3 linked regions of the Homo sapiens genome follow. The protein of the gene in region 3 interacts with the protein of the main gene of each other region in a pairwise test. Each region holds a gene or a part of one and is shown on either strand. Other genes may lie near its edges.

Region 1 (3,650 bases), on a different chromosome or scaffold from region 3:
CATTTGACTTCCTCCATAAGATTTCATTTGAAGAAACAGTTGAGTGGCTAGGATTTCAACAGTTTAAATAACATAAGTCATTTTCATTGGTGTAGCAATTTTTGGATGTGCTAGAATTCTTCTGATTCTTTAAGGAATAGAGAAATTACTAACTATGGTTAAAGTAACTTAGTCGGGTACCTTTAGAAGAGTAAAGACTTGAGTTTATTTATTTATAGTACTTTAATTAAATTTAGGGGAGAATAAGCAAATTAATGGTTAGTTATGGCATCTCCATGCACTGGTTTAATCATAAATATTAGATCATATTATCTAACCTTTTTTTTTCTTGTTGAACTAGTCTCTGCACCACCTTGTCACTGCAGTGGGAACCAGAGATCATAGCAGTAGCAGTGATGTATCTCGCAGGACGTTTGTGCAAATTTGAAATACAAGAATGGACCTCCAAACCCATGTATAGGAGATGGTGGGAGCAGTTTGTTCAAGATGTCCCGGTCGACGTTTTGGAAGGTACCAGGCATGCTAAGCGTTCTCGTGAGGGTGTTCCATGTTGAGATGATTCTTCCATGTGTACCCTGAGTCCCAAGAATGGATTTTCCCAGATAGACATATGTGAGCAATATTTCAGAAGCATCATTAATTAAATTATCTAATAGTTTCCACTTTGTCCAAACACATACTTTTGGTAAACTAAAAATACACACCAGTGTTGCACACAACGAAGATGGGGTGAGTTGTAAATGTGATTCATGCTTAGGTCCTCGTAGGGGTATCATAACTGATTCTTTATCCAGGTAAAATTTTATTTAAAATACCAATTTGTGTAAAATGTAATTGTTGGCTATCATTTAGACATCTGCCACCAAATCCTGGATCTTTACTCACAAGGAAAACAACAGATGCCTCATCACACCCCCCATCAGCTGCAACAGCCCCCATCTCTTCAGCCTACACCACAAGTGCCGCAAGTACAGCAGTCACAGCCGTCTCAAAGCTCCGAACCATCCCAGCCCCAGCAGAAGGACCCCCAGCAACCAGCCCAGCAGCAGCAGCCAGCCCAACAGCCCAAGAAACCCTCTCCGCAGCCCAGTTCTCCCCGACAGGTTAAGCGAGCCGTGGTGAGTGGGCTAAAGCAGGCCCTGGGTAGAGCAGGCTTTCCAGGTGGCGGCAACACCTGAGCACTGTTCCCATTTCTAAGCGAGCACAGGGAACACCGGAAGCAGGGGGTGTTCGCCGAAACTCGCAGTCCGACTGCTTGTCGGTGGGGAGCCTGAAAACAAAGGTGCTCCAAGGACAGGCTGCCTCTGAGAACCAGGAGGGGGCTCTCTGCCCGGCTCCAGCCCTGCTGCCTGTTTCATCCCTGCCAGGGTTCTGAAGCCTGTCGGTGTCGTTGCCGTGTCCTAGCAGTGTCGTTGTGCATGCTGCTTCTGTGCAGCTGCCTGACCCCAAACAGTGGACCGTTTCCTGCACCCAAGTGGTCCTGAAACTTAGTGTTTACTCAGAACTCACCATTCAGGAAAGCTAGTCATTCTGTCTTATTTGGTAAATGGAAAGAGGAAGGGAGCAGAAATGATGATCTGGTAGGTGCCGTGGTTTGCCCTGAAAGTTCAGGCTAGAAATAATTTTTGTCCGAGGCTGTTCACAGTGACTGCCGTCGCTGATTCTGGTGGTACCTGGATAATCCATTTTTTTCTCATCATACTCAGGATCCCAGTTAACAATTGTGTATTTTCTTTTGTAACAGGTTGTTTCTCCCAAAGAAGAGAACAAAGCAGCAGGTAATTTCCTGTTCTGATGTTTTTTTAGTTTTATGTGTTTATATGCAAAACTTTAAATTCTTAGCCAACATTGTTTCTTTTCAGATCTAAATTGGCCTTAAATCTTAACTTTAGAGCTCATACAAAACTTTTCCATCAGCATTGTCTTTCTGTTCATCACCTGATCATAGATTCTAAAATTGTGCTCTTACGAAGCTATCAGTACAGAAAACATTACTGGCAATAAAAATGTACTCAGTAACATATATAAAAGTATAATTATGGCTGTAGGAGAACTGTTGCTGCAATTTTATTTTTAGAGACTATTTACCCCCATCACAGCAGCAGGAGTCCTCTCCCAAGCACCAAGCCACAGCAGATGCGGGGGGGCAGTAGGGGGTGGTGTGCTGCCCGGACAGCACCAGCCCGGCCCAGCCCAGCTGCCCTTGCAGGCAAGGCCTCTTTGAAACACACTTGGGTTGAGGTGCTGTCACATGTCTAGAACCCAAAGTTAGTTCATGTCAATATTGGAAATAAACAGAAGGAGTGAGCAAAATTGGAACAATTACAAAACAGAAAGTTAGAAATGTTTTGTCACAGGGTCAGTCCACCTATCATACTGAACTCTTTGAAGGCACAGACCCTATTGACTCATTTGTCTTTCTTTGTTACTTGGTTCTTAGTTCCAGTAGTTCCTGGTTCTTAGAACCATGTTCTCGGTTCTTAGTTCCATTCATTAAACTGCTGTGAAATCTTCCAGTTATGATAGAGCTACTTTTTTTTTTTTTCCAGTATATTTGAGGGAATGATGAGTTCAGTACAGGTGAATTTTTTTTTTTTTTTTGAGACAGAGTTTCACTCTTGTTGCCCAGGCTGGAGTGCAGCGGTGCAATCTTAACTCACCACAACCTCCGCCTCCTGGGTTCAAGCAATTCTCCTGCCTCAGCCTCCCGAGTAGCTGGGATTACAGGCATGCACCACCAGGCCTGGCTAATTTTGTATTTTTAGTAGAGACAGGGTTTCTCCATGTTGGTCAGGCAGGTGTCAAACTCCCGACCTCAGGTGATCTGCTCGCCCCAGCCTCCCAAAGTGCTGCGATTACAGGCATGAGCCACCGTGCCCAGCCTACAGGTGAATTTTTTAATTAGCTTCAAATTGACCGACATTAAATGTTAGACACAAGAACGGGCTACACTCCATGCCACATGAAATGCAATTGAGTTGACGTGCAGGTCTGTCAGAGGCAGGAAACAAACTATATATGACCTTGAAGGAAGAGTTGCATTTGAGCAGCGAGAGCAGAGGGGGAGGATGGAGCAATAAGTTGGAAGTACGCAAGTGAGCAAAGGAATTGAGAATCAGGGGAAATGGAGAGGAGTCTTTCTGGAATGTGATGAATTGAAAGGCAATAGCTTCTGATAGGATCTAAAATGTGGGTTAGGACCAGATCACAGAGTTTACCTGGAGGACTGTGAGTTTGGCAGAGGCAAGGGAAGCCATTGGAGATTTAGCAGGGGAATGGCAGAGTCTAAATTCATTTGAGAAGGAGTCCCCTGGCAGCAGTAAATAGGGCAAGTGGTTAGGAATGGGGAGAATCTTGCTGGCACTCATGGGAAACATGGTGGCCTCAGCATGCTGGCTGCGGGGCAGGAAGGGCAGATCCGGAGGAAGCTTTATAGAGGAACTCAGCTGCACTGTGCCATGCCGAAGGCTACTGGCTGCAGAGGGCTGCAAGCACTCGAAATGTGACTGGGTCAAATTCTGAAGCACTGACAATGCAAAATACACAGAGATTTCCAAGAAAGGAGAACGTAAGACATCTCATTAGTAAAGCTTTATATTGGTTACATGTTGAAATAAAATTTTCGATCTATCGGGTTAAATAAATTTTAT
Region 2 (3,650 bases), on a different chromosome or scaffold from region 3:
TCCATTTGCCTCGTGTCCCTATTGGGGTGCGGTACCAACCCAGGATGGGGTGCAGTTCATGATATGATCTGTCTGCCTGCTCCCCCCACCCCCCAGGTTCTCCTGGATGGATACCTGATGATCTGTGTGGACGGGGGGCCCTCCACAGATGGCTTGGACTGGTTCTGCTACCATGCCTCTTCCCACGCCATCTTCCCGGCCACCTTCTGTCAGAAGAATGACATTGAGCTCACACCGCCAAAAGGTAAGACTAGAGAGGCCACCACCTGCTGTCCTTGCCATCAGAAGGGGCAGGGTGTCCAGGCGCGGTGGCTCCCGCCTGTAATCCTAGCACTTTGGGAGGCCGAGGCAGGTGGATGACCTGAGGTCAGGAGTTTGAGACCAGCCTGGCCAACATGACAAAACCTCGTCTCTACTAAAAATACAAAAATTAGCCAGGCATGGTGACAGGTGCCTATAATCCCAGCCACTCGGGAGTCTGAGGCAGGAGAATTGCTTGAACCCAGGAGGTGGAGGTTACAGTGAGCCGAGATCATGCCATTGCACTCCAGCCTGGGCGACAGAGCAAGACTCTGTCTTCAAAACAAAACAGAAGGGGCAGGGTGTGGCCACAAGCCCAGATTCCTGGTCAAGTCAGGCCCCAGAAGTGTAGCATTTCAGGGTGTATGGGAAAGGTGACAGAGCCCACCACCAGCCCTTAACTGCTGGGCTGACCCTACCCCATGGCCAGTGTATGGTTGATGAACAGAGCTCCCACTTATCCCATTGGTCAGTGAACAACCTATACAACAGGACTGTGGTGCTAGAGCAGGTACTACCCTGAGGGGATGAGAAGAAGGCTGCTGGGGAGACTCCATGCTGGGTCCTGACCAAGCTGCAGAGCTTCTTCAGCCATGTGTCCTTTCCTCCTGCCCACTTCCTGCTTCCCCCTCTCCCTCTGCATCTGAGCTTTCTGCTCCTCCAGGTTATGAGGCACAGACTTTCAACTGGGAGAACTACTTGGAGAAGACCAAGTCGAAAGCCGCTCCATCGAGACTCTTTAACATGGTGAGGAGACTGAAGTGGAGCAAGGGGCCTGCGGTGGCCTCAGGACAGGCCCTGCCTGCTGCTGTCAGTGGTGGCAGTTCCTACTCTTTCTCTCGAATCTCTACTGCTGACATCAGCCACTTTCAGGGGGAAGTCCCCAGCTATGGCCTGGGCACTCCAGTCCCTCTTCCATGGAGGGCGGTACTGGGAGAGGTGCAGTGGGTTATTGTCTAGAGGAAGCTGCCCCAGCAGCCATTCCAGTCCCCGCCCCTCCCTGCCAGTTCTTCAAGTGCCTCCGGGCCGGGGCAAGCCTGCTGGGGTAGGGAGCTGACTGGCTTGGCCACTGCCTCCTTTTTCTGCCCCAGGATTGCCCAAACCATGGCTTCAAGGTGGGCATGAAGCTGGAGGCCGTGGACCTGATGGAGCCCCGGCTCATCTGTGTGGCCACGGTGAAACGAGTGGTGCATCGGCTCCTCAGCATCCACTTTGACGGCTGGGACAGCGAGTACGACCAGTGGGTGGACTGCGAGTCCCCAGACATCTACCCCGTCGGCTGGTGTGAGCTCACCGGCTACCAGCTCCAGCCTCCTGTGGCCGCAGGTGTGGGCTCTCGTGGCCCTAAGAGGCTCTGACTTTCTTTCCTCTTCTTTTTTCCTTCTTCCCCCGCCCCTGTGCCCATCTCCGTTCTTTGGCATGAGGTGGAGATGTCTCATGGACCACTTTAAGTAGAGAGTGAGCCCCGTCACCCAGCCCCTGCTCCTGACTTCTCTGTCTCCCTTTCCCTCTGGCCTGCAGAGCTCCTTCCTTCATCTTGCCCACTCTGTCATATGTTCGTGCCCTTGTGCACCCAGGTAAACTACCCAGGTCCCTCTGAGCAGCCCTGGTAACAAGGGTGGGAAGAAGGGACAGCTGTTCTCCGGCCCCTCCTCCAGCCCCGCCCTCTCCTCATTGCCCAGGTTTGGCTTCCTGTCTTGGGGTGTCTCGTGTGGGAGGGTGGATGGGGTCTCGGGATGCGCCTGTGCCCTGTGTCCTCCCAGGGACCCTCTTCTCATCTCTTTCACCCTTGTCTTTCAACAACAGAACCGGCCACACCGCTGAAGGCCAAAGAGGCCACAAAGAAGAAAAAGAAACAGTTTGGGAAGAAAAGTAAGTGCTGCACCGGTGCAGCCAGGCTGGTGTGGGCCTGGGAGCAGTGGGCCTGCGTCCCTGGGAGCAGGCGGGGGTCAGCCCCCAGGCACTGGTTCCCAGGTGCTGTCCTACTGACGTAGCTCTCTTCGTGTTCCTGTCCTGTCTCTTTCCCCTTGCCCTTTGGCCTACGGGCCTTTCACCCTGTCTCTGGGGACCCAGACCATAAATAGGGAGTGTTCAGTCTCTGGCCATGGTCAGGGTGCTGAGGAAAAGAGGTAAGAGATTGAGGTTGGGGGATCCCATCCCTGATGCCCCATGTTCAGAAAAAAACAGCCTGGCCTGGGCAAGCCGCAGCTGCTAGGTTCTAAAGGAAAAGCCACAGGAAGAAATAGAAGCTGTCTCTCCAAGGCTGTCATTCTTACCTCGAGACCTCTTTGAGGGTGGGAGAGGGTGGGAGCAAAGGCAGGCAGCTGAGTGGCAGGACTCCACCTGGCTCTCAGGCCGTGGGTGTCGTTTCCCTTGGTGGGGCCTCACTCTACAGATTCTGAGCCCAGCTTGGGTTCCACTTGAGGGGCAGAGCGGGAGCGGGCAAAGCCATCCTTCAGAGCCGCAGGCCTATGACAGCGAGGTGGGCTCCACAGTGTGGTACCATGTGGGGAAGAGGATGTTCTGAAACAGAAACAAGGTCCCTTGGGCAGGGTTAAGATTGAGTGAGGCGGCCAGGCGCGGTGGCTCACACCTGTAATCCCATCACTTTGGGAGGCCGAGGTGGGCGGATCATGAGGTCAGAAGTTCCAAGACCAGCCTGACCAACATGGCGAAACCCCGTCTCTACTAAAAATACAAAAATTAGCCAGGTGTGGTGGCAGGCGCCTGTAATCCCAGCTACTTGGGAGGCTGAGGCAGGAGAATCACTTGAACCTGGGGGCCGGAGGTGGCAGTGAGCCCAGATCGCTCCACTTCACTCCAGCCTGGGCGGAAGAGGGAAACTCCATCGCACAAAAAAAAAAAAAAAATTGAGTGAGGGTGTGGCATTTATCCAGCAGGCAGAGGCTCTGTACCATTCAAACGGTAGGACCGGGAATGGTGCATGTTGTGGGAAGAAATCAACAATCAAAAACGGGGGCTGAGTGTGATGGTTCACACCTGTGATCCCAGCACTTTGAGAGGCTGAGGTGGGAGGATCTCTTGAGCCCAAGAGTTTGAGACCAGCCTGGGCAACATAGCGAGACCCCTAATTTAAAAAAAATTTTTAATTAGCTGGGTATGGTGGCACAGGCCTGTAGTCCCAGCTACTCAGGAGGCTAAGGTAGGAGGATCACCTGAGCCTGGGAGGTCAAGGCTGCAGTGAACTGTGATCACCCCACTGTACTCAAACCTGGGTGACAGAGTGAGACCCTCTTCAAAAAATCTTTTTATTTAAAAAAAGATTTTAAAAAGCAGTTACAACCACGACTGCCTGGGGCTTGGTTTGAGGGAGGTGGTGGTATTACTTC
Region 3 (3,650 bases):
GGAGACATATTTGGGACCAAGGCTCATTAGTAGGTTAGGGTCTGCTGTACCTACCCGTCTGCCAACATCTATCTGCCAATATTCCCAGACTTTCCTGTTTCTAAATGCTGATTTAGATAAATGCTTTTCTAACCAAAATGAAGCAGTATGGTATTTAAGTCAACCATGGAAATAAGCATTAACATATGTGCCCCCACCTGAAAGACATCAGGTTAGGTTCGATTTGAATCAGGCAGGAGGCCAGATGCAATCAAGTCCCTGAAGTCTGGAACTCCACCAGAAGAAGAGATCAGGCTCCCCTGCCCCAGGATCCTCCAGACTGCAGAAGATCTAGGGAGGTCAGAATAGAGCAGGGCTCCCACATCTTTGATAAAATGTGATTTTGTAAACTAGAAGAAAGGGGGAAATGGCAAAAGCAGGCCTTTCTCTAAAAGGTCTAATAAACGGGATGATGCCGGGGTACTTTCCAGGCCTCCCTCATGCCATCTCTATCTCTACGATTACATCACAAGCCCCAGAACACCCTGGCTCTACACGCAAGGCAGGCCACACACTGGACTGCTTGCATAGACCTAGAGCAGTTCAGTGGCTCAGTGAGGACTTGCTATCCCAACTGGACCAAGTTGGAAGCCCTACATGGTATGTGAGATCACAGAATTGGTATTTGATACCCCTGGAAATGGTTGCATCGTCATTTCACCAATACAGCTACACTTTCCTCTAAGGCCTGTGGGTTTGACATTGATCCTTATATGTTTATTTGTTCATGGGCTTGTTAGAAAGCTTTTAGATTGAGATTTAGGCAAAAAAGAAAGTGAACTTGGTTTTTAGCCGTAAATTTCTCTAGACCATTCTTAGGTCAAACTAACCAGCTTCCTTCTGCAGAAATTGTTCAGTGCTACATGGGCATGTGAGAACAAATTTTGCGTGCTCAGTGCTAAGACACTTTCTCCCACCAACTCTACCTTTCTCATAACAAGATCTTAAAAGATGATTTCATTCCCTCAGTCCTTAGGTGCTGTCCTGTCCTCAGGTGCTGATGTCTAATCACCACACTGTTTGGTTCAGTCACCTGCTATCATCCCTCCAGTTTAGGGGTTCTGTCTCTTTAATCAGCAGGCAAAAAATTCAGACTCAGGCTTTTGACCCTGCAAAATGGAGAAGCATGTACTGCTTTTGAATTTTTAAAAAAAAAAAAAAACAGTTAGAAATTTGACACTAAGACATCTAAGCAACTGGGTGGAGATCTGAAGTAGCAAGTGAAAATGATACCATTAATGATATTGATGATGGATGTAAAGGCAATTGCAAACAATTGGTTTTTTGTTCTTAACTCCAGTCAAACACTTACCAAAACAACTAAACTGGTTGGACTTCAACAATCTAAATGAAATCTTGAAGCATGAATGTATTTCCCATGCAGTATGGAAAGGAAGAGAGAGAGAAAGTAGTTAAAAAACAATCTCCATTCCTACCACACACCTTTGGCTTGCATTGTTCACCACCTTTTAAAGTAATGCCTGATGTGTTATATGCTGGTCCTCCAGAAATTCTAAACTTTCCCCAGAAGTGACCTTTGTTCTCCCAGTGCCTCACAACACTCTTAAATACCAAAGAGCTTCAGGGGGCAAGGACAAGAATTTTCTAAAGGAAACCCTTCTCCACTTGCACTGGACAGGCTGTCAAGACCCAGCAAGACACTTTGTCATGTTATCTCACTCCACATTCGCTTTCTCTCCTTGTAGCTACCTCATCCCTGAACTCCCAGCTCCAGCAGCTCCAGCTCCAGCTCCAGCAGCAGCAGCAGCAGCAGCAGCAGCAGCCTCCCCCGTCAACCAACCAGCACCCGCAACCAGCCCCACAGGCGCCCTCGCAGTCCCAGCAGCAGCCGCTGCAGCCCACCCCACCCCAGCAGCCACCACCCGCCTCTCAGCAGCCGCCAGCTCCTACATCTCAGCTGCAACAGGCGCCTCAGCCCCAGCAGCACCAACCCCACTCCCACTCCCAGAACCAGAACCAACCATCTCCAACCCAGCAGAGCTCCAGCCCCCCGCAGAAACCTAGTCAGTCTCCAGGACATGGCCTGCCTTCACCGCTCACGCCACCCAATCCTCTACAGGTATGCTCCCCGTGCTTCCCGTCTGCCCCTAGGAGCACCAAGGACCTTTCCATGGGGTGGTGCCATCCCCAAAGGCAGAGGGACCACACAAAACTTAGCATCCAGTTCTGCAGCATCTAATTCAAATTGATCTCTTAGACATAGGGAAGAAGAAGCAACTAGAAGGCAACTGGGGATGCATGTAAACGAAACAAATAGAAGCCCATTTCTGTTGCCCTCCAAAGGATAAATGTTATCTGTTTCCTTCTGTGAGAGGCCAGCACTATAAGTGCATTTGGAGCCTGTAATAATTCCATTTTATGATACTTTTTGAAGGCAGCAAAGATAGCATCCAATTAAAATTATTACTAGCACAGTTTTGTAGCCCCATGGAGAACTGCATCTACTGTCCATGAGGCATGGTGGTTATTTCTCTATATTATGAATACAACAGTGTCTCACCTTAAGTACTTTGTGCTCTTTTGTTTCTATTTTTCTAAAGACTCTCTGGGGTTAGGAGGGCAAAGAAATTTAGCCCCAGTCTTATGTCCCAGATTCCAACCATTACTCCACAGACTAACAAGTACTCTAAATTCATGCCAAGAGCCTCAACCAATATGCATCTTTATAAAGGAATAAAACTTCTATAGGTTTACTTTATTACTGTGAGGCTGAGAGCTTCATAAATAGATATTTCAGGCTAACCATGAGAGCTCATCTATAACCTACCTATTGAGAAGGAATGGATAGGTGCATTCATATATATATATATATATATATGACTTTAAACTTCAGAAAACCATTTTTAACTTAGGTGTCTTTAAAATAAATTAGCTTCAAAACATAATGACTGTGATGTCATCATATCAGATCCAGAAATTAATAACTCAGCCAAGCCATCCATTCTTTGACTTGCACAATGACATTTTTCCCTGTGAGATTTCAGACAATCTCGTGTATTTGTAGTACTGTGACAAAGTTAAACAGAGTGAGCAGCCTGTGGACCTGTTTCAAGTGCCATCTCATCCCCTTGCCATAGTGGTGGGTATAAACCTCAGTCAGTCCGGCTCTCCCCAGCCTGAGAATGACAGTAGCGATGGTATCCTTGGCTCCTAAATAGAAAAGTATACAAAATAAAGACAGGTTGGTACACGGACAGAAAGGCAGGTGGATTAGAGACTTGGTATTTTAGAACTTAGTTTGTTGTCCCATAGCTTTGTCTCTTCCAATTTGGATTCTCAGTGGTGTGGCCCAAAGCATTCCTAGAAATGAACACATTTGGGAGAGATGAGTCATTGTGTTTTTCTGGGCTCTTGGGCCAGGGCTACTTTCAATTTGAACATTTTCATGAGTGGAGTTTCAAGATGTATTTATACAATTCTTACGATGGTGAGACAACGTAACACCTTTGACCTAGGACTAAAATGAACATGGTCCAAAAACGTCTTCATTGTCCACTTGACACCTACTGAAAGAGCAGGTGTCATCAAATTTACAGAAGGCATGATTACAGCAACCTTAATGTTGGCAGCATTTGGGATTCAACTTTATT

Evidence for each region.
Region 1: the proteins of POU6F2 (region 3) and CCNK interact in binary tests that used the Homo sapiens proteins (3 or more experiments, as listed by UniProt).
Region 2: the proteins of POU6F2 (region 3) and L3MBTL2 interact in binary tests that used the Homo sapiens proteins (3 or more experiments, as listed by UniProt).

Annotation. Positions count from the first base shown.
Region 1 is NC_000014.9:99,501,867-99,505,516, forward strand, and holds part of CCNK (cyclin-K), read left to right. Parts: exon of another isoform or gene 1-340; coding exon 341-510; exon of another isoform or gene 511-852; coding exon 853-1,118; exon of another isoform or gene 1,119-1,744; coding exon 1,745-1,778; exon of another isoform or gene 1,779-3,650. UniProt on the Homo sapiens protein: Regulatory subunit of cyclin-dependent kinases that mediates activation of target kinases.
Region 2 is NC_000022.11:41,225,698-41,229,347, forward strand, and holds part of L3MBTL2 (lethal(3)malignant brain tumor-like protein 2), read left to right. Parts: intron 1-96; coding exon 97-244; intron 245-964; coding exon 965-1,047; intron 1,048-1,391; coding exon 1,392-1,626; intron 1,627-1,821; coding exon of another isoform or gene 1,822-1,877; intron 1,878-2,106; coding exon 2,107-2,172; intron 2,173-3,650. UniProt on the Homo sapiens protein: Putative Polycomb group (PcG) protein. PcG proteins maintain the transcriptionally repressive state of genes, probably via a modification of chromatin, rendering it heritably changed in its expressibility.
Region 3 is NC_000007.14:39,337,897-39,341,546, forward strand, and holds part of POU6F2 (POU domain, class 6, transcription factor 2), read left to right. Parts: exon of another isoform or gene 1-1,224; intron 1,225-1,745; coding exon 1,746-2,119; intron 2,120-3,650. UniProt on the Homo sapiens protein: Probable transcription factor likely to be involved in early steps in the differentiation of amacrine and ganglion cells. Recognizes and binds to the DNA sequence 5'-ATGCAAAT-3'. Isoform 1 does not bind DNA.